Linked DNA regions of Homo sapiens. The protein of the gene in region 1 purifies or fractionates together with the protein of each later gene. This does not show direct contact. Each region holds a gene or a part of one and is shown in the gene's direction. Other genes may lie near its edges.

What was found.
Region 2: the proteins of RP2 (region 1) and DMXL2 purify together in Homo sapiens (affinity purification with mass spectrometry; 4 studies listed by BioGRID and IntAct, with this or other methods). This does not show direct contact.
Region 3: the proteins of RP2 (region 1) and TNPO2 purify together in Homo sapiens (affinity purification with mass spectrometry; 3 studies listed by BioGRID and IntAct, with this or other methods). This does not show direct contact.
Region 4: the proteins of RP2 (region 1) and TKFC purify together in Homo sapiens (affinity purification with mass spectrometry; 3 studies listed by BioGRID and IntAct, with this or other methods). This does not show direct contact.
Region 5: the proteins of RP2 (region 1) and TRIP12 purify together in Homo sapiens (affinity purification with mass spectrometry; 3 studies listed by BioGRID and IntAct, with this or other methods). This does not show direct contact.
Region 6: the proteins of RP2 (region 1) and PDS5A purify together in Homo sapiens (affinity purification with mass spectrometry; 3 studies listed by BioGRID and IntAct, with this or other methods). This does not show direct contact.
Region 7: the proteins of RP2 (region 1) and STAT3 purify together in Homo sapiens (affinity purification with mass spectrometry; 3 studies listed by BioGRID and IntAct, with this or other methods). This does not show direct contact.

Annotation. Positions count from the first base shown.
Region 1 is NC_000023.11:46,857,185-46,861,486, forward strand, and holds part of RP2 (protein XRP2), read left to right. Parts: intron 1-2,803; coding exon 2,804-2,918; intron 2,919-4,302. UniProt on the Homo sapiens protein: Acts as a GTPase-activating protein (GAP) involved in trafficking between the Golgi and the ciliary membrane.
Region 2 is NC_000015.10:51,447,042-51,450,084, reverse strand, and holds the end of DMXL2 (dmX-like protein 2), read left to right. Parts: intron 1-891; coding exon 892-1,101; 3' UTR 1,102-2,294; downstream 2,295-3,043. UniProt on the Homo sapiens protein: May serve as a scaffold protein for MADD and RAB3GA on synaptic vesicles. Plays a role in the brain as a key controller of neuronal and endocrine homeostatic processes.
Region 3 is NC_000019.10:12,710,433-12,714,385, reverse strand, and holds part of TNPO2 (transportin-2), read left to right. Parts: intron 1-2,772; coding exon 2,773-2,833; intron 2,834-2,924; coding exon 2,925-3,090; intron 3,091-3,612; coding exon 3,613-3,765; intron 3,766-3,953. UniProt on the Homo sapiens protein: Probably functions in nuclear protein import as nuclear transport receptor. Serves as receptor for nuclear localization signals (NLS) in cargo substrates.
Region 4 is NC_000011.10:61,342,428-61,346,486, forward strand, and holds part of TKFC (triokinase/FMN cyclase), read left to right. Parts: intron 1-33; coding exon 34-68; intron 69-146; coding exon 147-231; intron 232-327; coding exon 328-417; intron 418-914; coding exon 915-1,031; intron 1,032-1,428; coding exon 1,429-1,548; intron 1,549-1,708; coding exon 1,709-1,846; intron 1,847-2,832; coding exon 2,833-2,939; intron 2,940-3,034; coding exon 3,035-3,138; intron 3,139-3,284; coding exon 3,285-3,318; intron 3,319-3,429; coding exon 3,430-3,519; intron 3,520-3,867; coding exon of another isoform or gene 3,868-3,897; exon of another isoform or gene 3,898-3,923; coding exon 3,924-4,059.
Region 5 is NC_000002.12:229,855,603-229,859,904, reverse strand, and holds part of TRIP12 (E3 ubiquitin-protein ligase TRIP12), read left to right. Parts: intron 1-330; coding exon 331-1,133; intron 1,134-4,302. UniProt on the Homo sapiens protein: E3 ubiquitin-protein ligase involved in ubiquitin fusion degradation (UFD) pathway and regulation of DNA repair.
Region 6 is NC_000004.12:39,897,451-39,901,752, reverse strand, and holds part of PDS5A (sister chromatid cohesion protein PDS5 homolog A), read left to right. Parts: intron 1-1,245; coding exon 1,246-1,327; intron 1,328-2,927; coding exon 2,928-2,976; intron 2,977-3,224; coding exon 3,225-3,364; coding exon of another isoform or gene 3,365-3,397; exon of another isoform or gene 3,398-3,739; intron 3,740-4,302. UniProt on the Homo sapiens protein: Probable regulator of sister chromatid cohesion in mitosis which may stabilize cohesin complex association with chromatin. May couple sister chromatid cohesion during mitosis to DNA replication.
Region 7 is NC_000017.11:42,381,609-42,385,910, reverse strand, and holds part of STAT3 (signal transducer and activator of transcription 3), read left to right. Parts: intron 1-4,302. UniProt on the Homo sapiens protein: Signal transducer and transcription activator that mediates cellular responses to interleukins, KITLG/SCF, LEP and other growth factors. Once activated, recruits coactivators, such as NCOA1 or MED1, to the promoter region of the target gene.

The DNA of each region.
Region 1 (4,302 bases):
GAAGTCCAAAAAGGCTGGGTAAAGCAAAAAGACATTCCATAGGGAGCCAAGAGAAGTTACTAGACTTTGGTTTTCTCACCTAAAAATCAGATTCCAGCCGGGCGCAGTGGCTCACGCCTGTAATCCCAGCACTTTGGGAGGCCGAGGCGGGTGGATCACGAGGTCAGGAGTTCAAGACCAGCCTGGCCAAGATGGTGAAACCCCGTCTGTACTAAAAATACAAAAATTAGCCAGGCGTGGTGGTGGGTGCTTGTAATCCCAGCTACTCGGGAGGCTGTGGCAGGGAATTGCCTGAACCCACGAGGCGGAGGTTGCAGTGAGCTGAGATCCCACCACTGCACTCCAGCCTGGGCGAGAGGGCAAGACTCCGTCTCAAAAACAAACAAACAATAAAAATTGTTTTTCTTTCCTCGACTTCTCTTACCTACATCACAGATATGTACAGGATAAAATAGAGTAAAATAGTTTGAGAGTACTTCATCATCTGAAATTGAAGTTGGGTAGTTACCACTATTTTCAAGTCTTTAAAAGTAGAATTTTCATGAAAAGGAGTCTCTTCAAATATCTGCAGTGAAATATTAAAATATAGTTTATTATTTAGGTAACATTATTTTGAAGTAATCATCATAATCTCATCAGTTTGTGTTTATAAAATCAGAGATGATAAGCACTCTAGAAAATAAGAGAGGTAGAATTGTTTCTGATATTTTTATTTTACAGTCATCTGGCAGTGATGTCCATGTAATTCTCTACAATTTTTAAATGTATGTTTCTTTTTTTGGAGGCAGCATTGAATGAGGGTTCTGAAATAGGATTTGAGTTTAATAAAATTCGATGGAATGGTATGGAATAATGTAGCCATAGGATGAAATACTATCAGCCATTAAAACTGACTTTATGTAGAAAATGTCACAATTAAGTAAGTGAAAATTTGTAGAATATTAGGTAAGTAACTGATTTTTTTAAGTAGGTAAGTCTGGAAAGTTATAGATACTTAAATGTTAACAGGCATGCTTATTCTTAGGCAGTTGATTAACAGCAGGGTTTTCTTTTTTTGTAGTTCTATGGATTTAACAGTGAGCATATATTATTTCTGTAATGGGAGAAAAAGAAAACTGGGAGGGTATACCTGTATGGCAGTAGCATCTTTTAGTTGCAGCACCCTGGTTGATATTTCTTCATTTCTATTTTTTATTTTTCAAATGTTCTGTGTTGAGAATATATGTTACTTTTAATTATTAAAAACCTAACAAGCTTTGCTAAAAATTAAGTGGTTGGAATATGACTACATTTTTTTTTTTTTAAAGACAAGGTTTTGCTCTATTGTCCAGGCTGGAGTGCAGTGGTGAGATCATAGCTCAGTGTAGCCTCTAACTCCTGGGCTTAAGGGATCCTCCCACCTCAGCCTCCTGAGTAGCTAGGACTACAGGCACACACCACCACACCTGGCTAATTTTAAATTTTTTTTTATAAAGATGGGGTCTTGCTGTGTTGCCCAGGCTGGTCTCAAACTCCTGGTCTCAAGCAGTCCTCCCACCTTGGCCTCTCAGAGTGCTTGGGATGCATGTGTGAGCCATGATGCTGGGCTGACTGCATTTTTAAAAACTACTTTCATAATTACTTTAAAAATTAATATGCCCTCATTGTGGAGAATTATAGAAATAAGAAAGAGTAAAATAAGTTTAAAATCAATACATAATTGTACCATACCTTGAATAATCTTTTTAGGAATCATTTTTAAATTTATTTAGTCTGTAATTAGATTAACTAGGTTTGAATCACAGCTCTGTCACTTAATTGTTGAATGTCCTTGGGCAAGTTCCTTAATCACTGTGCGCCTTAGTTTTCATATCTGTACAATGAGGGTAATGATACCTACTTCGTGAGAGGGTTAAATATATATATGTAAAGTACATAAAACTGCCTGCCACATGGTAAGTGCTCCATAAGTGTGATCTACCATTATTGTGCTATACTATATAAATTTGTATCATGCCTTTTAAAATTAACATTATTGGCCAGGTACAGTGGCTCATGCTTATAATTCCAGCATCTTGGGTGGCTGAGGCAGGAGGATGGCTTGAGCCCAGGAGTTCAAGATCAGCCTGGCAACATGGCAAGAACCTGTTTCTACAAAAAAAATTTTAAAAATTAGCCAGGCATGGTGGCACGAGCTTGTAGTCCCAGCTAGCTGCCTGGGAGGCTGAGGTGGGAGAATCGTTTGAACCCAGGCGTTTGAGGCTGCAGTGAGCTATGATTGCACCACTACATTCCAGCCAGGGCAACAGAGTGACACCCTATCTCAAAAAAAAAAAAAAAGAAAGAAAAATAAACAAATAAAAGTAAAATTAACATTATTACATAAGCTTTTCCTCATTTTATTATAACATCTTTGTTGTATTTAATGAACTGTGATAAATGTAATGAACTGTGGCATTTCATCATGTGACTGTACCATAATTTACTTAACCATTCTCTTCTTATTGGACATTTGCAGTATCACCAAACTAAAACTTCCATCTGGTTGTAGAAAAATTTTAATCATGTTTTAAACTTGAGAGATAATTCACATTTATTTGACCCTTAACCTTAACTGCAGTACTAAACCAGAACCACCCATCTGTAAGAAAGAATCTCATATAGTGAGAACTTATTATAGCAAACACCCTGAATTAGACTTATAATTAAAACAAAAATCAGTGTGCTGTTGTTGCATTTTATACAGAGAAATACTAGAATAGGAAATCATTGTTTTAGTCTCAGAAGTTCATTTTAAAATCTCAATGAAATTTTATTTTCACAGATGGTTGGTAAAGGCTTTTTCCTAGTTCAGACAAAGGAAGTGTCCATGAAAGCTGAGGATGCTCAAAGGGTTTTTCGGGAAAAAGCACCTGACTTCCTTCCTCTTCTGAACAAAGGTACCTTCTGGATGATTGGTATACTTTTGTGGATATTTTCTTTACATGCTGATTTGATTTACTTTTGCCTTTAACATTTGTTTTACATTGCCTTCTCTTTCTCATTTGTTCTTTGTTTTTTTTCTATTATTGTTCTGAAATGTCAAAATTTCACATCACTCAAGGAGCCCTAGACAACTAACTAGAAATTAGGCATTCTTTTTTTTTCCCTATCCTCTGTTCTTAGTACTGAAAGTCACATTTTATTATGTATCTTATTATCATTTTAATTGTTGTATTATTGTTGTACCTTTATAGTGTAGTGATAAATATTTCATGCTCCCTGCTCAGAGTTGCAAAGCACTTGATGAAGATTCTTTCTACCTTCAGTGTGCTTTAATCATACTGGAAAAGAAATAAGAAATATAAAGTGGTATACTATTTTATGTATTTAATATGATTGATTAACTTCCATGTATAATTAGAATTGTTTTCCCTAGTGGGTAAATGCCACCAATAAATTTCAGATACTGGATATAGGTCTTCAAAGAGAGGAACTTGAGTATGTGTGCCCACTTGAAGGGTTACTGTCTGCCTACCTGTATTTGAAGGTGTATTGATTCTAGAGGACAGAGTACTCTTTATCTGTTCAGAGTGGGGCCATTGTTTGCTCAAGGCTCATCAGGCTTTCCTTGACTGGCCTGAGCAAATATGTATAGTAATACGCAGTGTTGATTGGGTATTCCCTAGAGAGAGGGCACATCTGCATTTTATGTGCTCTTTATGTATAAAAATATTATAATAAACTGCAAAAATCTGTATGCAAATGTTAGAGGAATGTTAGGATAATAAGTAATGCTGGGTGTAACTCAGCTGGTAAGTATTAATGCAGTATTTGATAATACTTCTGTGGTTACTGTAGTGGTAGCAAGGACTTGCTGTGACCCACTGCATGAATCTACCCCAGAATATATGTAGGAAATTCTGACCTGGCCCCTTTGATGCAACCATTTTGACATGGGAACATTTGGAAGCTTGAAAATGAATGTTTAACTTCTTAGCAGCTTTTGGAAATTGAATCAGGTAATAAGTGTATTGGACATCCTAAAGTGTGAGAGTTAGGAATAAAGTGAGCATATCGGTAGAGCTAAATTAATGATTTATGTACCTGTGTGATGTTAGTGAAGTCGTATTGTAGAATTGCTCCAACCCAAATATAATATCTGCATTTAAGTAACAGAACATTCCACATGGAAGAAGTAAAATGTTCTATTGCTGCAAAAAGTAGAACTAAAACCAATAAGCAGATGTTGCAGGAATTTCAGCAAATAAATATTATATAAACAAGTCTTAAAAACAAGAGATGCCTATAGGAAGTATTCAAAGACTGATGAGTTCATATCAA
Region 2 (3,043 bases), on another chromosome or scaffold:
AAGAGAAAAAACAAAAACTCCACATTCTTTGAAATAAAGCTTCACTTTATTTCACTTGGGCTACTGCATGGAGATACTGCATATCTCAACACTCTGCCGCCTCCCCATGCTCCTGTATGGTTCTTTCTAAACTGTTATGGTCAATGAGATTATCAAACTCATTGGACTCAGGCCATTAGAAAGCTTTAAAGCATTCTATTTTGAGTAAAGTGTATGAGTTTAATGCATGAAATTTTTTGATGACATTAGTTTGGCTCCTTAGAAGCTTCTCCCCTCTCCCTCAGTACTCTTGTGTGTGGTGGAGGTGACGTTTCCAGTAAGTGAGCTAGTGCAGATGCTCCTTGACTTTATGGTGGGATTATGTCCCAACAAACCCATTATAAGTTAAAAATATTGTTAAAGTTGAAAAACATACTTTCAACTTAATATTTTCAACTTACTATGAGTTTATTGAGACTAACCTCAGGATAAGCCAAGGAGCGTGCTGAATGCGTATTGCTTTCACACTGTCATAAAGTCAAAAAGTCTTGTCAAACCATCGTAAGTAGGGGACTGTCTGTACCACACTACTTTTACATAGCCTTAGGACCTAGCTCAGCATGAGGAACACATTTAACTGAATTAACTCAAATAGTTAATTGAATTAGAGATGGGCTACATATGGTTAATATGAAGCCACAAGAGGATGTGAAGGAAAATATGGAAGGAGGACAGTAAATGAATCGTGGGAGTGGTGTTATCATTTCCCACTTAGATAAGCTCTTAGGAAAGAGGCAGTGGGTGGGAAGGTTGGGCTTTAGTGAGATCACTTGGGCCAAGGGAGCAGAAGGGCCATGTTTTTGCTTTTGGTCTTTTCGTAATATATTTTTAACTCCTTTTGTTTTGCACTAGGTTTGGAGATTGACAGGCCATGGCCTAATTCATTCATTTAAAAGTGAACATGCTAAGCAGTCCATATTTCGAAACATTGGGGCTGGAGTCATGCAGATTGACATCATCCAGGGCAATCGGCTCTTCTCCTGTGGTGCAGATGGCACGCTGAAAACCAGGGTTTTGCCCAATGCTTTTAACATCCCTAACAGAATTCTTGACATTCTATAAAGATTGGGGTTTTATTTTTATATACATTTCAGTTAAAAGGCACACTACAGTCATCACTAGGCAATTCTGCTTTCTAAGCAGTTGTATTGAAAACAGAGAATCTCTGTGTAGAATTTGAATATGACCCAAGCTGAGTATTATCTAAACAGGTTGGTGGAATGAATGCGCATGTACCTTATTATGCTGACATACTAAAAAAAATAAAACCTAGTATTGTATGAAGGATAGCTATTCTTTACAGCATTTAGCAAACCTGATTCAGAAAACATTTGAGATTAGCAAATTAGTAACTTGAAATAATGAAAAGGACGTTTATACCAAATTAAGGAAGAAAATGTTGCTGATTTGGGTTTTTCTTCCTGTTCTTACCACTGACTGAAGCATGCCTGCAGTCTCCTCCTCTGTTGAATGAAGGATAATCATAAGGTGTTTGTTAGGAGCGCTAGACCACCTGGAAAACTTTCTTAGCTGTGGAGCAGTGCGCAGTGACCAGTTCTCTGCTGTGAGAGGCCGTTTCCATTCTTTCCTGCTGAATATTTTTCCTGTTAGTGTTTATACTGAGCTAGTACTGTAACTTGCAAATGAGTGCAAATTTAAATGCAATGTTTTACTCACAATTTGCACATTCACATTTTTTGGACTGCTAGTTTTTCTATTTAAATATTTGCCTTCATGTTAGGAATGTACTATGTGAACATGACATATTTGTAGTTAACCAAACACACCTTCTTAGTCCAGTTTAGTACTTTTTCTTTTCGTGTATTCAAGGTTAAACACCCAAACATTTAAGGATATGTTGAAACTACACCAATAGAGCATTTCATATCATAATTAAAATGAATGTTAGGCTTCTTGTGGCCAGTTAATAGTTGATGAGATTGGTGACATTATTTATTGCCACAGCCTATTGTATAAACTATGCAGAGTTAAATATTTGCTTGTAAAATATTAGCCAATGTTGTCATTATTTTGATGTATTTCCTTGGTTATGACCAAAAATATGTTGAGATACTGAAACTAATGTCTGTGTGTTTAAATGTTTACCAGCAAATTGTCTTATCATGTTAATGAGAATGTTCAATGCCTGTGTGGTAAATAGTAAATACAATGGCATAAAAGTAACTTTCTCTGAAGATGTGATGTTCAGGCTGTGAAATATATATGTAAAAGAAAAATAAATGTTATTTGTTAGAGTTTTTAGTTTGATACTGTTTTTGACCATTGAGATTTTTAATTTGATAAAATGTTTAACTGTTAGAGAATTTGCAAGCTATTTGGCAGTCTATTCATTCATAAGTAAGTATTTACTGAATACCTTCTATACCAAAAGCCATTCTAGGAAATGGGATACAGTGGAGAGCCAGACAGAGAAAGCACACAATGTTGAGATTTAGCGGGGCAAGAGCTAACCTCACTATACCTTCTCCAGACAGATTTGAAGTTTATTGAATGAAGTACTAACCTCGTACCCAAAACTCAAATCTGAGTCTTGGCTATTTGCTTGCTCCTAAGTAAGTAAGGGAAGTCAGAATATGCCCACTGATAAGAAGAGCCAGGAAAATAAGCTTGTGAGTGACATCTCAATGCCTAAAGCAAAACTGATTCAAAGGAGCTTTCAGAAAAAAGGGAAGAGAACTTTCTCTGTCAGGTAAAAGCAGTAAGAGACTCTAGATTCACCTTCTAGCTTGAAACAACTAAAAGAAAGAAGACGACAAAATATATAAACAATGGTTCTCAAGACATTAAGCATCAGGTAGGGAGGGACAGTGATTCCTGAGAGGTGAGCATTTTAATTGTCCCAACTTACCACCTCAAGAAAGTTTCCAGGCCACAGGCAGGGAGAGAACCCAGGCAGAGCCTAATGGTTTCTCCAAGTTGCCAAGATGATAGAACTGCGAGTCTGGGGAATATAATGAGGATAGAGTTCGCAGGCCAAAGGCCA
Region 3 (3,953 bases), on another chromosome or scaffold:
AGCCAAGGTCGTGCCACTGCACTCCAGCCTGGGTGACAGAGCAAAACTCCGTCTCAAAAAAAAAAAAAAAAGAAATGAAAAATCAACAAAGGCTTCAGGGGTATGGCTGTATCCAGGAGCTCAAAGGATGTGAAAGGCATCTTTGTGGTCTCAGATCTGCTTCCCTTGTGTTGGCTTCATTCTTAGGCACAACCTTCCCTCTGGGTAGTGCTGTAGCCTTCTGTGCCCTTCCAGCTTAGGAACTTCAGAGTAAAGAAATTTTCGACCAGTGTTTCCAACAAAAGTCCTAAAACTGACCCTCCTTGACAAACTTGGATTGCTTGCCTCTCTCCAAATCATTTTTTTCTTTTTTATTTTGAGACAAGGTTTTGCTCTGTCATCCACGCTGGAGTGGAGTGTCAAAATCATGGCTCACTGCAGCCTTGACCTCCCAGCTGAAGCAATCCTCCTACCTCAGCCTCCCAAGTAGCTGGGATTACAGGCACATCCCACCACACCTAGCTAATCTTTTCTAAGTTTTAGTAGAGATGAGGTCTTGCTAAGTTGCTCTGGCTGGTCTCGGATCCCTGGCCTCAAGCAGTCCTCCTGTCTTGGTCTCCTAAAGTGTTGAGATTACAGGTGCGAGCCACTGTACCCAGCCCCCAGATCATTATTATTATTATTTTGAAATTTCTGTTTTTGAGACGGAGTCTCACTCTGCTGCCCAGGCTGGAGGGCAGTGGCACAATCTCGGCTCACTGCAACCTCCGCCCCTCGGGTTCAAGCGATTCTCTTGCCTCAGCTTCCTGACCTTGTGTTCTGCCCACTTTGGCCTCCCAAAGTGCTAGGATTACAGGCGTGAGTCACCACGCCCAGCATATTGTATGTTTATTTATTTATTTATTTATTTATTTATTTATTTATCATTCATTAGAGGTGAGGTCTCACTATATTGTCCCAATTGGTCTCAAACTTATGGGCTCAGGCAATCCTCCTGCATTGGTCTCCCAAAGTGCTATAATGACAGGTGTGAGCCCCTGTGCCCGGCCCCAAATTATTGATAACAGTCTAGGGCTGGGCAGACGGCTCCTGGGGAGTGATGAGACCTAGATGAGCAGGTGATGAAGGCTCTGTCACTTACAACTCTGGGCTGCAGCTGAGGGGCTGGCTGCCTAGTCTGTTTGCTCCCCTACTCTGGCTAGTCTCTGCCCTATCTCAGGAAAGTGGCCAGGAATAGGACCGCATGTCCCTGCCTTAATGTTGTGCTAGGGACCAGGCACTGTACCAAGATTTTCAGTGTATTCAGGGGTCTATAATCCACTGAGTGGCCAGGCCTGGGTCAAGAGCTTTCCTGCAGGCTGAGTGCCATGGCTCACGCCTATAATCCTAGCACTTTGGGAGGCTGAGGCAGGAGGATTGCATGAGCCCAGGAGCATGAGGCTGTGGTGAGCTGTGATCGCACCAGTGCACTCCAGCCTGGGTGATAGGGTTACGTAGGGACCAGCCCCACAGGGTCGGTGGGTCTCTTCCTGTGTGCGGCGATGAGAGAGTGTAGAAATAAAGACACAAGACAAAGAGATAATAGAAAAGGCAGCTGGGCCCGGGGGACCACTACCACCAATGCGCGGAGACCGGTAGTGACCCCAAATGTCTGGCTGCGCTGTTATTTATTGCATACAAGGCAGAAGGGGCAGGGTAAAGAATGTGAGTCACCTCCAATGATAGGTAAGGTCACATGGGTCACGTGTCCACTGGACAGGGGGCCCTTCCCTGCCTGGCAGCCGAGGCAGAGAGGGAGAGTAGACAAAGAGAAAGACAGCGTATGCCATTATTTCTGCATATCAGGGACTATTAGTATTTTCACTAATTTACTACTGCTATCTGGAAGGCAGAGCCAGGTGTACAGGATGGAACATGAAGGCAGACTAGGAGTGTGACCACTGAAGCACAGCATCTCAGGGAGACGGTTAGGCCTCCGGATAACTGCGGGCAAACCTGACTGATGTCAGGCCCTCCACAAGAGGTGGAGGAGCAGAGTCTTCTCTAAACTCCCCCGGGGAAAGGGAGACTCCCCCACTTTCCTGGTCTGCTAAGTAGCGGGTGTTGTTCCTTGACACCTTTTGCTACCGCTGGACCATGATCCGCCTGGTAACGGGCGTCTTCCCAGATGCTGGCGTCACCGCTAGACCAAGGAGCCCTCTGGTGGCCCTGTCCGGGCATAACAGAAGGCTCGCACTCTTGTCTTCTGGTCACACCTCACTATGTCCCCTCAGCTCCTATCTCTGTATGGCCTGGTTTTTCCTAGGCTATGATTATAGAGCGAGGATTATCATAATATTGGAATAAAAAGTAATTGCTACAAACTAATGATTAATGATATTCATATATAATCATATCTAAGATCTATATCTGGTATAACTATTCTTGTTTTATATTTTATTATACTGGAACAGCTCGTGTCCTCTGTCTCTTGCCTCGGTGCCTGGGTGGCTTGCCGCCCACAGGGTTAGACCCTGCTTCTTAAGAAAAAAAAAAAAAAACCTTTCTCTGGAGGCAGGAGTGGTATCATTTATATCCTAATCATAGCGGCAGAGACTAGATTCCGATAATTCCCCAGAGGGAAATGGATCAATTTGCACCTAGCAGTACCATCATGCTCTGCAGGGTCTGCTCTGTGGCTGATTGGGGGGCTGGTCACTCTGTTGGCACCTGTTTGCCTCCTCCCCAAGCTGTGCCTCCCCCCAACTTTTGCCACGGCCCCTGCATCCCCATAAACAGTCCCTCTCTGTGCAGGTTGATCCCCATCTTGGTGAATGGGATGAAGTACTCGGAAATTGACATCATCCTGCTCAAGGTCAGGCAGGGCCCACCCAGCATGGGTGGGCATGGGCGTGGGTGTCGCGGCTGTGGTCCCCAAAGTACTTAACAGTCTGCCTGTCCCCCAGGGGGATGTGGAGGAGGATGAGGCTGTCCCCGACAGTGAGCAGGACATCAAGCCACGCTTCCACAAGTCACGCACGGTCACACTGCCCCACGAGGCTGAGCGGCCTGATGGCTCCGAGGACGCGGAGGATGACGATGATGATGATGCTCTGTCCGACTGGAATTTGAGTGTGTGCCCCTGCCTGGGGGTGGTGGTGGGGTGGCAAGCCCTGGACTCCCTCTTGGGAGGTGACTAGAAGCTGAGGCAGAAGCTGATTAGAAGCTGATCGTGGCCGGGCGCAGTGGCTTACGCCTGTAATCCCAGCACTTTGGAAGGCTGAGGCGGGCGGATCACGAGGTCAGGAGATCAACACCATCCTGGCTAACACAGTGAAACCCCGTCTCTACTAAAAATACAAAAAATTAGTCGGGCGTGGTGTCGGGCGCCTGTAGTCCCAGCTACTCGGGAGGCTGAGGCAGGAAAACGGCATGAACCCAGGAGGCGGAGCTTGCAGTGAGCCGAGATAGCGCCACTGCACTCCGGCCTGGGCGGAAAAAGTGAGACTCCGTCTCAAAAAAACAAAACAAAAAAAAAGAAGCTGATCGTGAAGATTCTGAGCATGATCTCTGATCCTGGGAGTGCAGTCAAGGAGGGTCGGCCACCTGCCTGAGGGGCCGCCCTGAGCCTCCCCATTGTTCCCCCTTCCCCAGGGAAGTGCTCAGCGGCTGCACTGGACGTCCTCGCCAATGTCTTCCGGGAGGAACTGCTGCCCCACCTACTCCCACTACTCAAAGGCCTCCTCTTCCACCCCGAGTGGGTGGTCAAGGAGTCGGGCATCCTGGTGCTGGGCGCCATTGCTGAGGGTGAGTGCGCCTGATCTCTGAGCCCTGTGCTGGCATGAGACTGTAGGGCTGGCCCACATTACTAGCCACACCAATGCCTCAGTTCTCCCTGGAGGCCTACTCACCCCACTCCAAACAGCTCTGAGATCTCAATTCTCCCCTTGGTTCCTGGGCCTGAAAGGAACCCCTGGAGCCCCACAGTGCAAGGC
Region 4 (4,059 bases), on another chromosome or scaffold:
GAGTGGGTCAGCAGTGACCACATCTATCCGCAGGGATCCACGGGGAAGCTGGTGTGCGCCGGATAAAGGTAGGTGGTCCCTCTGGCACAGGCCGCCCTAAGGCCAAGGCCCCCCAGATGCAGCTCATTCCTGGCTCCCTCTGACAGATGGCAACCGCCGATGAGATTGTGAAACTCATGCTCGACCACATGACAAACACCACCAACGCGTCCCATGTGCCTGTGCAGCCCGGTGGGTAGCCTCTCGCCCGCGTCTCCCAACCCCTCCTAAACCTCTGGGGAGGAGACGCCCAGAGGGTCTCACCTGGGGTGTCATGTCTACCCGCAGGCTCCTCAGTTGTGATGATGGTCAACAACCTGGGTGGCCTGTCATTCCTGGAACTGGGCATCATAGCCGACGCTACCGTCCGCTCCCTGGGTGAGCCATGCACTGGGAAGGGGATCCTACAGCCCTTTGGAAAGGGCTGAGGGAGGGTCTTGTGATGGCAGAGAACACGGACTGTGCGTCAGATAAGCCTGAGTTAAATCGTCTCTCTGCCACCTAATTGCCGGATACCTTGAGCCTCTGTTTGTTTTCTTGTCTGCAAATTGGGGGTAATAATAATGGTACCTGCTTTATACCGTTGTTTTGAGGATTAAGTGAGATTAAACATATGTAAGACACTCAACACAGCGCCCAGCACCTGGCACGAACTGAGTAAATGAGACCTGTAATTACTCATCTTCCCCGACGTAGGGGACACCTCCAGGGAACGTGGTCATTTGTGGGGTTATTGAGGGATGCCTGCCAGGAGGAAATCAGGACATCTCCCTCCCGACCTCAGAGCCCCAGCTTCCAAGGTCCTTGCTTTTCTGTTGTTTTCTTTCCCTGATGCCCATTTTTCCCTTTTGGACTGCCACACTCTGGTATTGCAGAGGGCCGCGGGGTGAAGATTGCCCGTGCCCTGGTGGGCACCTTCATGTCAGCACTGGAGATGCCTGGCATTTCTCTCACCCTCCTGCTGGTGGATGAGCCTCTCCTGAAACTGATAGGTGAGACTTGGAACCTGGGGTCACCCAAGCCAGGGCTCCTTGTAACTGGAAGGAGCCAGGGAGACTTGGAGACCCCGTCAGGGCTGACCGTGACAATCAGGGCTCTGGAGCCTGTGAAGAAGGCTCTTCCTGGGCTTCTCCAGCCTTCTCCAGCTCTCACTGGACTAGAAGGAGTTGGTATTAGGATCCTCCTCAGAGAGGCCTGACCCTTTCCCAGGGACCCTCTCTCCATACCCCTGTATACAGTAGGCACTCAGTCCATGCTTGTCGAGGTGGACTCCCTTCCTCCAGGGCTGCTGAGAAAGCCAGGCCACCAGGGTCAGGATGGGAGGGTCCAAGCCCTGCTGAATCCCTGGCTGGACAGCCGTGTCTAAGAGAGTTATCTTGCTGCCCTTAGATGCTGAAACCACTGCAGCAGCCTGGCCTAACGTGGCTGCAGTCTCCATTACTGGGCGGAAGCGGAGCCGGGTAGCCCCTGCCGAGCCCCAGGAGGCCCCTGATTCCACTGCTGCAGGAGGTACCAACCCCTGCCTTTGGGGAAGGGACAGGCTTCCCAAAGGATGCAGGAGTATACGGTGGGGCGGGTAGGGGCCCTGGCACCCACACCTCCCACCATAGTCAAGTGTGGTTGTGAGAAGGGCCTGGTGGGCCTGTTCTTCAGCATCCTCCCTTTCTAGGCTCAGCCTCGAAGCGGATGGCGCTGGTGCTGGAACGGGTGTGCAGCACTCTCCTGGGCCTGGAGGAACACCTGAATGCCCTGGACCGGGCTGCTGGTGACGGCGACTGTGGCACCACCCACAGCCGTGCGGCCAGAGGTTGGTGCCAGGGACTTTGCCAAGTGAGGTCATTCACAAAACCTTAGCCCCCCTTCCACTTGTTTCCCTGAAGGCAGGGACCTTCCTTTTTTTTTTTTTTTTTTTTTAAGAAGGAATCTCACTCTGTCGCTAGGCTGGAGTATGCAATGGTGTGATCTCGGCTCACTGCAGTCTCCGCCCCCCGGGTTCAAGTGATTTTCCTGCCTCAGCCTCCTGACTAGCTGAGATAACAGGCATGCGCCACCACGCCTGGCTAATTGTTGTGTTTTTAGTGGAGACGGGGTCTCGCCATGTTGGCCAGGCTGGTCTCTAACTCCCCACCTCAAGCCATCCGCTCGCCCTGGCCTCCCAAAGTGCTGAGATTACAGGCATGAGCCACCACACCCGGCCGACAGGGACCTTCTTAACACCACAAATGTATGAGGTTGTTATCTTAGAATTAAATGAAATCCTTCACAGTGAATAACTTACAACTCAAGGCGAACTTATTCTGTTGTCCTTATTTTTCTCAGTTTACCCAGACCAGTGAAAAGCTCTTAACTGTCCAGCATCATTCATTCGAGAAAAAGGTATTTGGTGCCTGCCGTGGGGCAGGCACTGCTCTCAGCTGTGGATACAGTAGTGAACAGAGCAGACAGAAATCACTGCCCTCATGGCTTATGTTCTAGGTGGAAGACAGTCAACCAGATAAATCAGTAAAACACAGAGGATGTTAGCACAAAGGGCTAAGGAGAAAAAAACCAAGCCAGGGAGCAGAGTACAGAGCGTCAAGTGGAGGGCTTCGGGGCAGGCCTCACCTCCCCAGGCCCCTTTCGGTTACGCAGCCCAGCCCCTCTCCAGACTGCACACTGGATGTGGAAAGGGATCTTGGGAAGCCTTCATTCCACTTCCCTGTCGGCCTTTTCCAGCCTTCATTGGTGCTGGCTGGAAGTCTGGCAGATGGAGGGAGGATCTCTGAATTCCTCCCCATCTCTCTCTGCCTGCAGCAATCCAGGAGTGGCTGAAGGAGGGCCCACCCCCTGCCAGCCCTGCCCAGCTGCTCTCCAAGTTGTCTGTCCTGCTCCTGGAGAAGATGGGAGGCTCATCTGGGGCGGTGGGTGCCTGGGGGCTGAAGGGCTGACAGGGAGGTGGCTGGGCTGGCTGGGGTCCAGGCCAGCACCACATGCTCAGCGTTGTCATCTTCCCCAGCTCTATGGCCTGTTCCTGACTGCGGCTGCACAGCCCCTGAAGGCCAAGACCAGCCTCCCAGCCTGGTCTGCTGCCATGGATGCCGGCCTGGAAGCCATGCAGAAGTGAGCCAGAGCCCTGTGCATCAGACCAGGGGTGGGCTGGGGGAGGTGTTTGGTGACATCTGCGCCCTGCCAGGCCCTAGCCCAACCCTCAGAGTGATTCCCTTGGTTCCCTATAGTGAGCCTCTTTCACTCTCTTTCCCTGCCAGGTATGGCAAGGCTGCTCCAGGGGACAGGACTATGGTATGTACTCAGGCTGTGGCCTCAGACCTTTCTCCTTTTGGCCCTGTAAGTCTAAAGAGCACCCTCGGTTGCAGGGCCCGTGCTCAGCCCCCTTTCCTTCACCTTGTCCAGCTGGATTCTCTGTGGGCAGCGGGGCAGGAGCTCCAAGCCTGGAAGAGCCCAGGAGCTGATCTGTTACAAGTCCTGACCAAAGCAGTCAAGGTGAGTGAGGCTGGGCCCAGCCACCTGGGGAGACAGGCTTCTAGCCAGCAGACTCCTGTCTCCATGTGACCCTGAGCAAGTTAATAACCTTCCTGGACCGCAGTTTCCTTCTCTGTACAATGGAGATGAGCACCTATCTCAGAAGGTGGTTATGTGGCTAAGGAAATATGTAGAGCCCCGCACACTGCCTGGGATGTGACAGGGCCTCAGTGAATGGTGACCCTTTTCCCTGCTGGAAGTAGATGAGAAGTGACTTTCCATTTGGTGACAGAGCAGAGGGTGCTGGCAGAGCCAGGGCAAGGGCGTGCAGGGCCAGGCTGCACGGCAGAGACGTTCTGCCCATGGCAGGAAGGAGGCGGCCTGGTGATCTGCCCTTGAACCTGCTCCCACACCCCATCCCCCAGAGTGCCGAAGCTGCAGCCGAGGCCACCAAGAATATGGAAGCTGGAGCCGGAAGAGCCAGTTATATCAGCTCAGCACGGCTGGAGCAGCCAGACCCCGGGGCGGTGGCAGCTGCTGCCATCCTCCGGGCCATCTTGG
Region 5 (4,302 bases), on another chromosome or scaffold:
ATCAATATTCTGGCTTCCTCTGGTTCCGAACAATTAAGTGTTGTTTTTCTTGTAATCTTAATTCTTGTTTTGTGATTACGAGTGTTAGTGTCAGTAATCTTTGGGCTAAAGAACACCCTTATCTTTTAATCAGATATTTTAGTATCCAAAGTCACATCTGCTTTTGTTTTGTTCTTTTATTTCGTTTTACAGATTTGAACCTTCTGAAAACCTATGTTTAATACTGGACTTAGTAGGAACATATTCATACTTTATTTTTTGAAAGCATTATATATGACAGTTGTAATTATGACAGGCTGATATTAACTGTTTTCTTATCTAACCTCTTAGAAGCTGCAGTTCATCATCTGCTGTGATAGTTCCACAACCAGAGGATCCAGACAGAGCCAATACTTCAGAAAGACAAAAAACGGGGCAGGTGCCTAAGAAAGACAATTCTCGAGGAGTGAAGCGCAGTGCTAGTCCAGACTACAACAGGACCAATTCTCCTAGCTCTGCAAAAAAACCAAAAGCACTTCAGCATACTGAATCTCCCTCAGAAACAAATAAGCCACATAGTAAGTCAAAGAAGAGACATTTAGACCAGGAGCAACAACTGAAATCTGCACAATCACCATCAACAAGCAAGGCTCATACCAGGAAGAGTGGGGCCACTGGCGGTTCACGGAGTCAGAAAAGAAAAAGGACAGAGAGTTCTTGTGTAAAGAGTGGCTCCGGGTCTGAATCAACTGGTGCAGAAGAGAGATCTGCGAAACCTACCAAGCTGGCTTCAAAATCAGCCACCTCAGCCAAAGCTGGGTGTAGCACCATCACTGATTCTTCTTCTGCTGCCTCTACTTCCTCCTCGTCTTCTGCTGTAGCCTCGGCCTCCTCCACTGTACCACCAGGTGCCAGAGTGAAACAAGGAAAAGATCAGAACAAGGCCAGGCGTTCCCGTTCAGCGTCCAGTCCCAGCCCCAGAAGAAGTAGCAGGGAAAAGGAACAGAGTAAAACTGGTGGCTCTTCAAAATTTGATTGGGCTGCTCGTTTCAGCCCTAAAGTTAGCCTTCCTAAAACAAAACTGTCTCTTCCAGGGTCTTCTAAGTCAGAGACATCAAAACCTGGACCTTCTGGATTACAGGCCAAATTAGCAAGTAAGTTTACAAAAAGGTATTTTTCTTTAATTAAAGAAAGTTTCTCTTGGTTTGTCAAAAGCAATTATGCTTTAAAGTTAAGGGTTTTTTCCCCCCAGTCTTAGATAATCTTAGATGTATTACTGTCTGTGTAATTAAGTACATAACAGCATGTAGTAAGTGCTACTACATTTAGTTTTGTTGAGACAGGTAAGGAATACTACCTTCCTATTATTACGAAACCATCACATTTTAGTGTCTGTGTCTTTATTGGTCCTCGCGGCATCTCCTACTTCACTGATTTCCTAATATCAGGATGGGACATAAAGTTGGATTTTCTTCTATACCACATACAAAATTATCATTTAGTTAGGAGTTCTTTTTAGTTATGAGTTGCCATGATCAGAGATCAAATATATATATGTTTTTTTAGATGGAGTCTCACTCTGTCGCCTAGGCTGGAGTGCAGTGGCGCAGTCTCGGCTCACTGCAACCTCCGCCTCCTGGGCTTAAGCAATCCTCTTGCCTTGGCCTCCAGAGTAACTGGGATTACAAGTGTGCACACCATGCCTGGGTAATTTTTGTGTTTTTAGTAGAGATGGGGTTTCACTGTGTTGGCCACGTTGGTCTCAAACTTCTGACCTCAAGTGATCTGCTCACCTCGGCCTCCCAAAGTGTGGGGATTACAGGTGTGAGCTACCATGCCTGGCCAAATATATTTTTTTATATGAGATATTCTTGATGTGTAGATACAGTGAATTAAGTTATTACTATAAATATACCTCAATGTAAATTAAACTTTTTCATATGTAATATCTCACAGTCTTTTAAGGAGTTTTGTCTAAAGATGAATACTACTTATGTTTCACTACTCTTATATACACTACTCTGTGTCCTAAGTGAGTAAGAATATTGCTCTCTAAAAGTTTACAGTGGAGTAGAAAGAATTTGTGTTTTGAGAATACATTCAAGCAAAGAAACAGAAAGTAGATGGAAGAAACATAGCGTTATGTGCATTCCTTCATGAGTCAGTTTTGGAGATATCCAGGAACTCTTCTCCCTCTCTCTTTACCAAAAGACTTCTTCAGGGAACCAGCTGCTCATCTGGGGAATGCTAGTGTCTTTCTTTTCTTTCCTCCCTTCTTTTTTTTTTTTGAGACAGAGTCTCACTCTGTTGCCCAGGATGGAGTAGTGGTGTGAGTGGTACGATCTTGGCTCACTGCAACCTCCACCTCCTGGGTTCAAGCAATTCTCCTGTCTCAGCCTCTCCTGAGTAGCTGAGATTACAAGTGTGCGCCATCACACCCAGCTAATTTTTGTATTTTTAGTAGAGAGGGAGTTTCACCATGTTGGTCAGGCTGGTCTTGAACTGGGACAAGTGATCCACCTGTCCCAGCCTCCCAAAGTGTTGGGATTATAAGTGTGAGCCACTGTGCCCAGGCTTCTTTCCTTATTTCTATTTCAGAAACCTATAAAGGACAAATAGGATAATAAAGCACTTATCTCTACAATTTTTAAAAGCATTTTAATTTTATAATACCTAATTAGGAAGCTTGCTTTTAAGCATCTTTTCTTCTCTGATGGATTTTAGATCTACATTTGGGTAGGGCTATAATGTTTTCTTGGTTTAAAAAGATTGTATATAGTGTCTACTAGCATTCTTGTCAAAGTATAGCTCATATTGAATCAGCCTAACTTAAAATTGAATCAGAACTATTAGCTCTGTTTAATTTAACACTGCAGTCTAAAACTACTTTTGGTTGATTCACATATTACCTGAAATGACAATACTATTAATAGTAGGTACTATATAAAAAATTTTATGTTTAACCTGTATGATAGGTTATTGTGAAGTAACATATTTTACTTTTAGATTGAACTTTGTTCTGTTTTGGTATTTTAAATATGCAGAACATCTGTATAAAATGTTTTAAGTTTAAAGGATTAAGATAGGCTAGATCAGTATCTTGAAGTGAGAAGGAAAAAAAGGTCCAAGTTAAAAGGACAACCAACTATTTGTCCTTCCAATGCTTTATTGATAATTGGAGTTACATATGTCAGCTTTTATGCTGCCTTTCCTCCCTGTGTTTTGTGTCTGTCAGTCCTGCTATGTAATATTCACAGCCAGTGAGCCAGGTTGAGTTTACAGCAAGCTGCTTAGGATTCACTTCCCCTTCTGCCTTCCAGTCTGCCTCACTTGAAGAACTCATCTCTTATGTGTAGGAGGGTTCTAGGGCCAGGCAATAGCAGATTGTACTTGAGTGTCATGGCCTTGGTCCTTTGTAGAGATCAGCTTTCTTTTCTTTATATAGTCTGTTAACTTGATTTTTAAAAGAAAACCCAACTCTACCAGTGGCTAATCAGTGGGATTTTCTCCTTGGTGTTTCAATCAGGAAACACCAAGAGTTTTGGCAGTGTCATTTTGCTGCTGGTTTGATAAAACCAATCCAGATAATTCCATTAAGCCTGCTCAGCACATAGTCACAAACTAATTTAGTATTTTAAAACTCATTTCACCATTATTTCATTCACTTGCACAGTATCTGTGTTCTGTTGTCACTATTAAATCACTTTTCCGTTTTCACTGCCACTATCCCAGTTCTGATCTCTCATCGTAGCCTAAGCTGTTGAAACAAGAGAATGGAACCAGCGTTTGTGTAGCATAAAATAAGTACCAGGTATTTTACATATGCAGTTACATATTCTTTTAAAAAAAATGGTGCTTTAGGATACACTTTTTTTTTTTTTTTTCTGAGACAGAGTCTTGCTGTATTACCCAGGCTGGAGTGTGTGTAGTGGCGCAGTTGGCTCACCGCAACCTCTACCTCCCAGGTTCGGGCAATTCTCGTGCCTCAGCCTCCCAAGTAGCTGGGATTACAGGCGCATGCCACCATGCTTGGCTAATTTTTGTATTTAAGAGACAGGGTTTCGCCATATTGACCAGGCTGGTCTCGAACTCCCGACTTCAGGTGATCTGCCCGCCTCAGCCTTCCAAAGTGCTGGGATTACAGGCCTGAGCCACCATGCCCAGCCTAGGATAGTTATCAAGGAAATGTATTCCAAGGAGATGAAATAACTTCTCTGAGTAATATACCTCATACTTGGCAGAGTTAGGATTTGAAGATGGGGGTAGTAGGTGTGACCTTGAATGAAGCATTTTCTTTTCTCTTTTTTTTTTTTTTTTTTTTTA
Region 6 (4,302 bases), on another chromosome or scaffold:
TGTCATTAAGAATTCTGATCTGAAGATGGAAGGATCTTTTCAGCCTAGAAGCTTGACCATCCTGGGCAATGTAGTGAGATTCTGTCTTAAAAAAGAGAGAGAATTTTGAGTTAGGAATTTGACTGTTTGCCATTGTGGCTTCTTCAAGTGTTCCTGCATTATTAGATTAAGACTGCATTTTTAGGCCGGACGTGGAGGCTAACCCCTGTAATCCCAGCATTTTGGGAGGCCAGGGCAGGCAGATAATTTGAGGTTAGGAGTTCGAGACCAGCCTGGCCAACATGGTGAAACCCCATCTCTACTAAAAATACAAAAATATTAGTTGGGCATGGTGGTGCACGCCTGTAATCCCAGCTACTAGGGAGGCTGAGGCCGGAGAATTGCTTGAACCCAGGAGGCAGATGTTGCAGTGAGCCGAGATTATCCCATTGTACTGCAGCCTGGGCAACAGAGTGAGACTTGTCTCAAAAAAAAAAAAAAAAAAAAGAAAGAAAAGAAAAAAAGACTGTCATTTTGGCAGAAATTCTATTACGATAGTGTTGTATCATGGTTACTAATCCCTTTCCTTGCTTAAGGTTTTGATGTTTGTTTACATTTCAAAATATCTGACAAAGAGTGTTTAGAGATTAGTAATTCTCAGAGGTCATCTGGGCACCTGGAAATATGGATGGGATTTCTGAGAGAAGAAAATCTGTGTTCCTGGAGAGAGAAAAGTTTAGAATAAACACAATAATGTAAATTTGGCATCTTGAATCTGCATCATTTTTGATACTTCATTTTTCAAAATAGTCTATAGTGCTTCATGTATATGCCTTAGCCTTTTTAATAAGGCCTTCATGATTTGATCTGTGTCTGTGGAATGCTCCAGCTTCCTTATGCTCCACACACATGCCTTGTGCTCCAAGCGTATACATGTTTTTCAGTTTGTTTTATGTCCCTTGCACTTTGAGATTTTCTTTCCTTGTACCAAAACTTTCTAGCTACCTGTATTTAGTACATCTTTCAATCCCTGTATTACTTATTAATCTTTCTAAACCTCTCAAATATTTTCTCTCATAAGAAGGCTTATATTTACCATTTGTACTAAATTGTTTTAAATCCTAATAAATATATTTCCCGGTATTTAAACTTTTAGGTAGATGTAGAAGAATGGTGTATATACAGCATGCAACAAGAAAGGTTGTAAAGCTGAATAATTTCCAGTATTGTTATGTAATGTGTGTTTTCATATTCATAACTTTACAGAGCTCTCAACGAAATGTGGAAGTGTCAGAACATGCTTCGGAGCCATGTACGCGAACTATTGGATTTGCACAAGCAGCCTACAGTAGGTTCATGATTTGTTTAAATTCATAGTTTATTATAGTCACTGTTCAGATTTTCTGTAGTTCTACGTAATGAAGCAGGGAAAAAGTATCTCAGTTGTTTTATTTTCCAAATGTCAGTTAAATATAATTTCTGTAGTTGTCCAAGCTAAATTTCCATTTAAAATAAATATAACAAACTCTTATTTTCTAGTGTGAGCAAAGAAATGGTGTTTTCTAGTTTATATAAAGTTTTCAGACACTAAGAGTTTATAGTTAATCAATTTTCAAATAATTAGAATTAAATTTTGAGATAAAATTACATTAAACATCATATTTCTTTTTCACTGCATGATTCATGGTCTCTCAGTGTAGAGTGAATATCAGATATCAATCCTATAAATATGCCAATGGCAAACTAAAAAAGAAATGCCATTAAATTTTTGCAAGGTTGGGGAAAAAAACTTTACATTTTTACGTGTGTTCACTAGAATAGGTGTTCTTAACCAGGGGACCATATAAACAGACCCCTCAAGGACACATGGATGCTGGAACAGGGGCGGGCAAACTTTTTTTTTTTTTTTTTTTTTTTTTTTTAATACACAGGATCTTACTCTGTTGCCCAGGCTGTCGCATAGTGGCATGATCACAGCTCACTGCAGCCTCGATGTCACTGGGCTGAGGTGATCCTCCCACCTCAGCCTTCTGAATAGCTGGGACTACGGGTGTGCTCCACCATACCCAGCTAGGTTTTGTATGTTTTTTGTAGAGGTGAGTTTTCACCATGTTTCCCAGGCTGGTCTCAAAATCTTGGGCTCATGCAGTCTGCCTGCCTAGGCCTCCCAAATTGCTAGGATTACAGGTGTGAGATACTGCACCTAGCCTAGCAAACTTTGAAAATAAATCAACAGATAGCAAAAACATATTTTGCAAGGCATAGAGTCTGTGGTCAGATATTCAACCCTGCCTTTGCAAAATTAGTCATACACGATAAATAAATGAATGGACATGACTATATTCCATCGAAACTACTAACAAAAACAGGTAGCTCATGGGGGCATAGTTTTCTAACTTTTGAACTAAATTATTCAAATTTAGTATAAATGAAAACTAATAAGTAATGTTTTATGGGATACAGGAAAGGGAAGTACGTTTTAGAAAGGAGGTTTTCCTGAAGGTATTTAAGTAACGGGCCACAAAGTAGCTAACAGAACTCTATTGCAGAAAAAAAAGTTTCTTCTCTATATTTTTAGTTAATTTTTTGTGGCATGTAGTTTCATAGTAATTCTGATATGATAAGTTTATATGTTGATTGCTTCATTGATCTTTTTTCAATCTTCTGGCAATGTAACTTTCCTGTGAAAGTTATATACTTGTGGGTTTTTAAGTACCTTCCTCCCAACATCTCCTTTCCTTCTATTTGTCTTAATAGTTGCTACTATGTAATTCTTTGTTGTTAGTTTAGCGTATATATGTGGTAAAACCATTTTCCATTGAGCAGACTGTGATGAACTTTATTTTTTAACGTCATGAAAAATGTACAGTAATGAGTATTGATTTTTGTTAGGGAAATTTGTTAACACATATGACTAGTTGTTCTTTTGTTTCTGTTTTAAATTTCAGTCAGAGGCTAACTGTTCTGCCATGTTTGGAAAACTGATGACCATAGCAAGTGAGTATGTTTATTTACTCACTAAACATGTAGTAAACGTAAATGCAGACAAAGTATTTACCCAGTGGGACTACTGATTTAATGTTAAGTAAAAGAAAATAATCTTTATCTTAATTTTGTTTCTAAGAACCAGCTAGGCTGATTTTCTTTTAGTGGCTCCGCAATATTTTGATGGCACCTGTTTTTAGCTTAGTAGAATAGTTTTTTTTTTTTCCTTCTCTAATATTGATTCTCTTTTAATTTTATAGAGAATTTGCCTGACCCCGGGAAAGCACAAGATTTTGTGAAGAAATTTAACCAGGTTCTCGGCGATGATGAGAAACTTCGGTCTCAGTTGGAGTTATTAATTAGCCCAACCTGTTCTTGCAAACAAGCAGATATTTGTGTGGTTAGTAAATCATACTTCACACTTTTTCTCTAGCTTTACTTACAGAAATATGTATTTTATTAAAGCCTGTTTTACATACAGTGATTTGTGTAAATGTAACAATATTGTGAGCTCTGAATTACTTTGGAGTATATCTATTGTCAAGTTAATTCTCTATTTACCATTCACTCTCAGCCACATTCCAGGAAAATAACTAAAGAACTAAGCCAGGGAGATTGGTCTTAGGAATTTTACAAGATAAAGTACTTTGAACTTAGTAGACATTCATTGAGTAATGATAAGTATTTTCTGAATGCTTGTGTACATGTGCATTTTCTTCTTTCATGTATTAGAATGGAAATAATCGTCAATAAATTAGTAGTAGTAACATTGCCATATATCTGGTTTCATTTACAGATAAAGTAAATTCCTATCTAGACTTTTGTCTTCATTCTTCTCTTGAACTCATTTAAAACCAATATTCTTAAAGCTATCAGGAGGGAAAACTTATGCATTCATTTATTCAGCTTTTTTTTTTTTTTTCCTGAGATAGTCTTGCTTTTGTCACCCAGGCTGGAGTTCAGTGGCACAATCATAGTTCACTACAGCGTTAAAGTCCTGTGCTCATGTGATCCTATACCCCAGCCTTCTGAATAGCTAGAACTATTGGCACACGCATCCACACCCAGCTAAGTTTTTAAATTTTTTGGAGGCCATGCACATTGGCTCACACCTGTAATCCCAGCACCTTGGGAGTCCAAGGCGTGTGGATCACCTGAGGTTGGGAGTTCGAGACCAGCCTAGCCAACTTGGTGAAACCCCATCTCTACTAAAAATACAGAAATTTGCCAGGTGTGGTGGTACATGCCTGTAATCTGAGCTACTCAAGAGGCTGAGACAGGAGAATTGCTTGAACTCGGGAGGTGGAGGTTGTAGTGAGCCGAGATCATGCCACTGCA
Region 7 (4,302 bases), on another chromosome or scaffold:
GGTGAAAAAAGAAATACAAATGGAGCTTGCTTAGATTATTTTTCTAATTGCTATGTCTAACTTGGGAAGTGAGGAACTGTTTTTGGTCAGCATAATTTACCATCAGAATTTAGCTATTTACTAATGAAAAGAAATACTAATCTAGGTTTGTTTTAGATTAAGGACAGTCATGACCTAAATGTCATTTAAACCAGAGTGCATTGTGGCTTGATCAGTGGTCATTTCTGTCTCTAGAAAGTTGCTTTAACTTCTCTGCCTCTACGTGTCTCTTGACATTCAGATATGAGGTGGGGTAGAGGTGGTGACCAACTTTCCAGACGCCTGAGTCCAAACCTTCTTAGCTTATGGTTTTCTTAGGTGATGTGCAAATCAACAAATATATACTTTTTTTTTTTTTTTTTTGAGTTGGAGTTGCACTCTATCACCCAGGCTGGAGTGCAGTGGCATGATCGTGGCTCACTGCAACCTCCTCCTCCCGGGTTCAAGTGATTCTCGCACCTCAGCCTCCTGAGTAGCTGGGATTACAGGTGCCCGCCACTACGCCCGGCTAATTTTTGTATTTTTAGTAGAGATAAGGTTTCACTATATTGACCAGGCTGGTCTCAAACTCCTGACCTCAAGAGATCTGCCCACCTCAGCCTCCCAAAGTGCTGGGATTACAGGCGTGAACCACCTTGCCTGGCCAACATATATATACCTTTTGCAACTTTGTCAGAGTTGCTATGAAGAATAAGTTGTATCTTGTTCACAGAAATTGCAGTCTACTGGGGGAGCTGATAAATGTTTTAACCATCCAATGTAACATGTTGTCATCAAAGAGATGGTGAGACTTTACACTTGTGCTAACAAGGTAGCTGTTCTACATAAAAGAACATACAGTACAGATGTAGAACTTTTCTGTTATCATAGAACGTTCTATTGGACAGTGCTAGGCTGAATGCTACAGATCTTCAGAGAAAGGAGAGGTTATGAGGCCTGGAGTTGTCTAGAAAGTCTTTTTGCCAAAGAGGGATTTCAACTGGGTCCCAAATAATGGGTGGAATTTGATAGGTGTAAAGAATTTGCGGTGGTTTATGCCTGTAATCCCAGCACTTTGGGAGGCTGAGGCAGGAGGATTGCTTGAGCCCAGGAGTTTGAGACCAGCTTGGGCAACGTGGTAAAACTCCCTCTCCCCTAAAAATAAAAAAAATTAGCCAGGCCTGGTGGCGTGGACCTGTAGTCCCAGCTACTGGTGAGACTAAGGTGGGAGGATCACCCAAGCCCCGGGGGTTAAGGCTGCAGTGAGCCGTGATCCCGCCACCGCACTCCAGCCTGGGTGACAGAGTGAGACCCTGTCTCCAAAAAAAAAAAAAATTCCTGGTAGCCCGGTAGACTAGGAGGGTAAGTAGGGGAGAAGTGATTACTTACAAAAGACATTGAATACAGGACCAAGGAATTTCAGTTCTGTTCTTTTGTAGGGGAAGCTTTTAAAACTTTCGGGGCGCCGGGCGCGGTGGCTCACGCCTGTAATCCCAGCACTTTGGGAGGCCCAGACGCGCGGATCACGAGGCCAGGAGATCGAGACCATCCTGGCTAACACGGTGAAACCCCATCTCTACTAAAAATACAAAAAAAAGTAGCCGGGCGTTGTGGCGGGCGTCTGTAGTCCCAGCTACTCGGGAGGCTGAGGCAGGAGAAGAGCGTGAACTCGGGAGGCGGAGCTTGCAGTGAGCCGATATCGCACCACTGCACTCCAGCCTGGGCGACAGAGCGAGACTCCGTCTCAAAAAAAAAAAAAATAAATAAATAAATAAATAAATAAAACTTTGGAGCCGAAGCACTGATGTTTAATCATAGAGTGCTTACTATGTGTTAGGCACAGGCCTGATTGCCTGATGCTGGTTAATTTGTACAAAGTAAATCAGTGCATATGCCCTCTGCCCTAGGGGAGTTATTAACTGGAGTCTGACATTGTACAAAGGTAGGTATCCTGACTAGTTTGATTTGGTACTTTGGGTGAAAAAAGTATAGTGTGCTTAAGTGCAGAAGTGTTTTTTGAGGATTTTTGATTGGATACAAACCACCACTCATATTTTATGTCTTTGGCACTTAAAAATTTCACCATAACTTTTGAGTCATTTATAAAAACCACTGAAAGAGTACTTGAGGGACATCCCCGAATCCTGAAGAACTTCTGGTGTTCTGGAGCAGCCTCAGTGAGATCCAGGAGGATGGCATTGCTGGGCTGGCCCAGCCCTTATTGATTATGGTGTAAAGAATTAATATGGTGGTTATATACTCTTTGTTAGACACCTTGGCTTACAAGACGTAAGCGTAAAGTGTAGTGCGCTTTAGTCAGTATGGCCACATGGTCCTTTGGTGGTAAATTGTTTGAGATGCCTCCAGTTTTTAAAAGGAGTAGCATATCGGGCCAGGAGCAGTGGCTCATGCCTATAATCCCAGCACTTTGGAAGGCCGAGGCAAGAGGATTGCTTGAGCCCAGGAGTTCAAGACCAGCCTGGGCAACATAGTGAGACCACTTTGTTTCTTTAAAAAAAAAAAAAAGGCAAAAACAGGCTGGGCATGGTGGCTGATGCCTGTAATCCCAGCGCTTTGTGAGGCAGAGGTGAGCGGATCACTTGAGGTCAGGAGTTTGAGACCAGCCTGGCCAACATGGTAAAACCCCGTCTCTACTAAAAATACAAAAATTAGCCAGGTGTGGTGGCACACGCCTGTAGTTCCAGCTACTCTGGAGGCTGAGCCAGGAGAATTGCTTGAACCTGGGAGGTGGAGGCTGCAGTGAGCCAAGATCCTGCCACTGCACTCCAGACTGGGGGACAGAGTGAGACATTCTGACAGTGCTACACTGAATGCTACATGTCTTCAGAGGAAGGAGAGGTTATGAGGCCTGGGAATAACATATGGAAGAATGAATTTCTGTTATGGTCAGTTCTCATTTGTCATGTTAGGATTACTGCAACTCTTACCCAGCCGGGTGTGGTGGCTCATGCCTGTAATTCCAGCACTTTGGGAGGCTGTGGGCGGATCACGAGGTCAGGAGATCGAGACCATCCTGGCTAACACGGTGAAACTCCGCCTCTACTAAAAATACAAAAAATTAGCCCAGCGTGGTGGCAGACGCCTGTAGTCCCAGCTACTCAGGAGGCTGAGGCAGGAGAATGGCATGAGTCCTGGAGGCGGAGCTTGCAGTGAGCTGAGATCGTGCCACTGCACTCCAGCCTGGGCAACAGAGTGGGACTCCATCTCAAAAAAAAAAGAAAAAAAAAAGGATTACCGCAACTCTTTAATTCAGATCAGCAAACATGTTGAGAGCCAGGTATTGCGTCAGGCAGGATCCAAGGATAATGAAATATTGTCCGTTTTCATGAAACTGGAGATGTTGCAGGGACCGAGGTGTGTGCTATGCCAGTATGGAAGTAGGACAGGGGAGACGACAGGGCAGTGAGTGGTTCAAGACTCTGGCTCTGAAGTCAAACAGATCTGGGACTGAATCCTGGATCTGCCACTTCCTAGTCAGAATCTGAGCCTCTATTTTCTTATCTGTAAAAGAAGATTATAACAGTGCTTATCTTGTAGGTACTGTTGACGATTCAATAAGATAATGTGGATAAAATGCTTAGCATAGTGCCTGGCACATAGTAAGAGCTCGGTAAATCTAAGTTCTTACTAAATATCCAAGAAAAGAGATTAATTCTTTTCAGGAGTGAGAGAAAGTCATCATTATTGAGGGGCTTTATCAGATGGGAACACCTGAATAGGGTTTTATAGGATGAATAGGAATTCTTTCCACGAAGTTGCGTTACAAAAAGTTGCATTCAAGGCTGAAGGAACATGAGGGTGCAGAGGCTTAAAACAGCCTTGTGTGTTCAGGGAGCTATAAGTAGAAGTTCTTAATTTAGGAGAACTAAACCAAGGGGAAAGGAGGCCAAGGAACCACAGTTCTTATCCCTTTTCTGTTAATAATTGGGTTTAAATGTCATTAAAATAAGTTATTTTGTCCTTTTTAGAAAAGTAATAACATGCTATTATAAAAAAAAAGACTTGTAGGAATATAAAATGTGTGTTTTACATGTATCCTGTTAATTGACTTGCTTTTATTCAGATTTTTTGCAGCCCTTTCTGTTTACCAGGTTATCTTGGAGACATATTTATTCCAAATTCCTTTTTTTTTTTTTTTTTGAGATGGAGTCTCGCTCTGTCGCCCAGGCTGGAGTGCAGTGGCGCTATCTTGGCTCATTGCAAGCTCCGCCTCCCGGGTTCACGCCACTCTCCTGCCTCAGCCTCCCGAGTAGCTGGGACTAC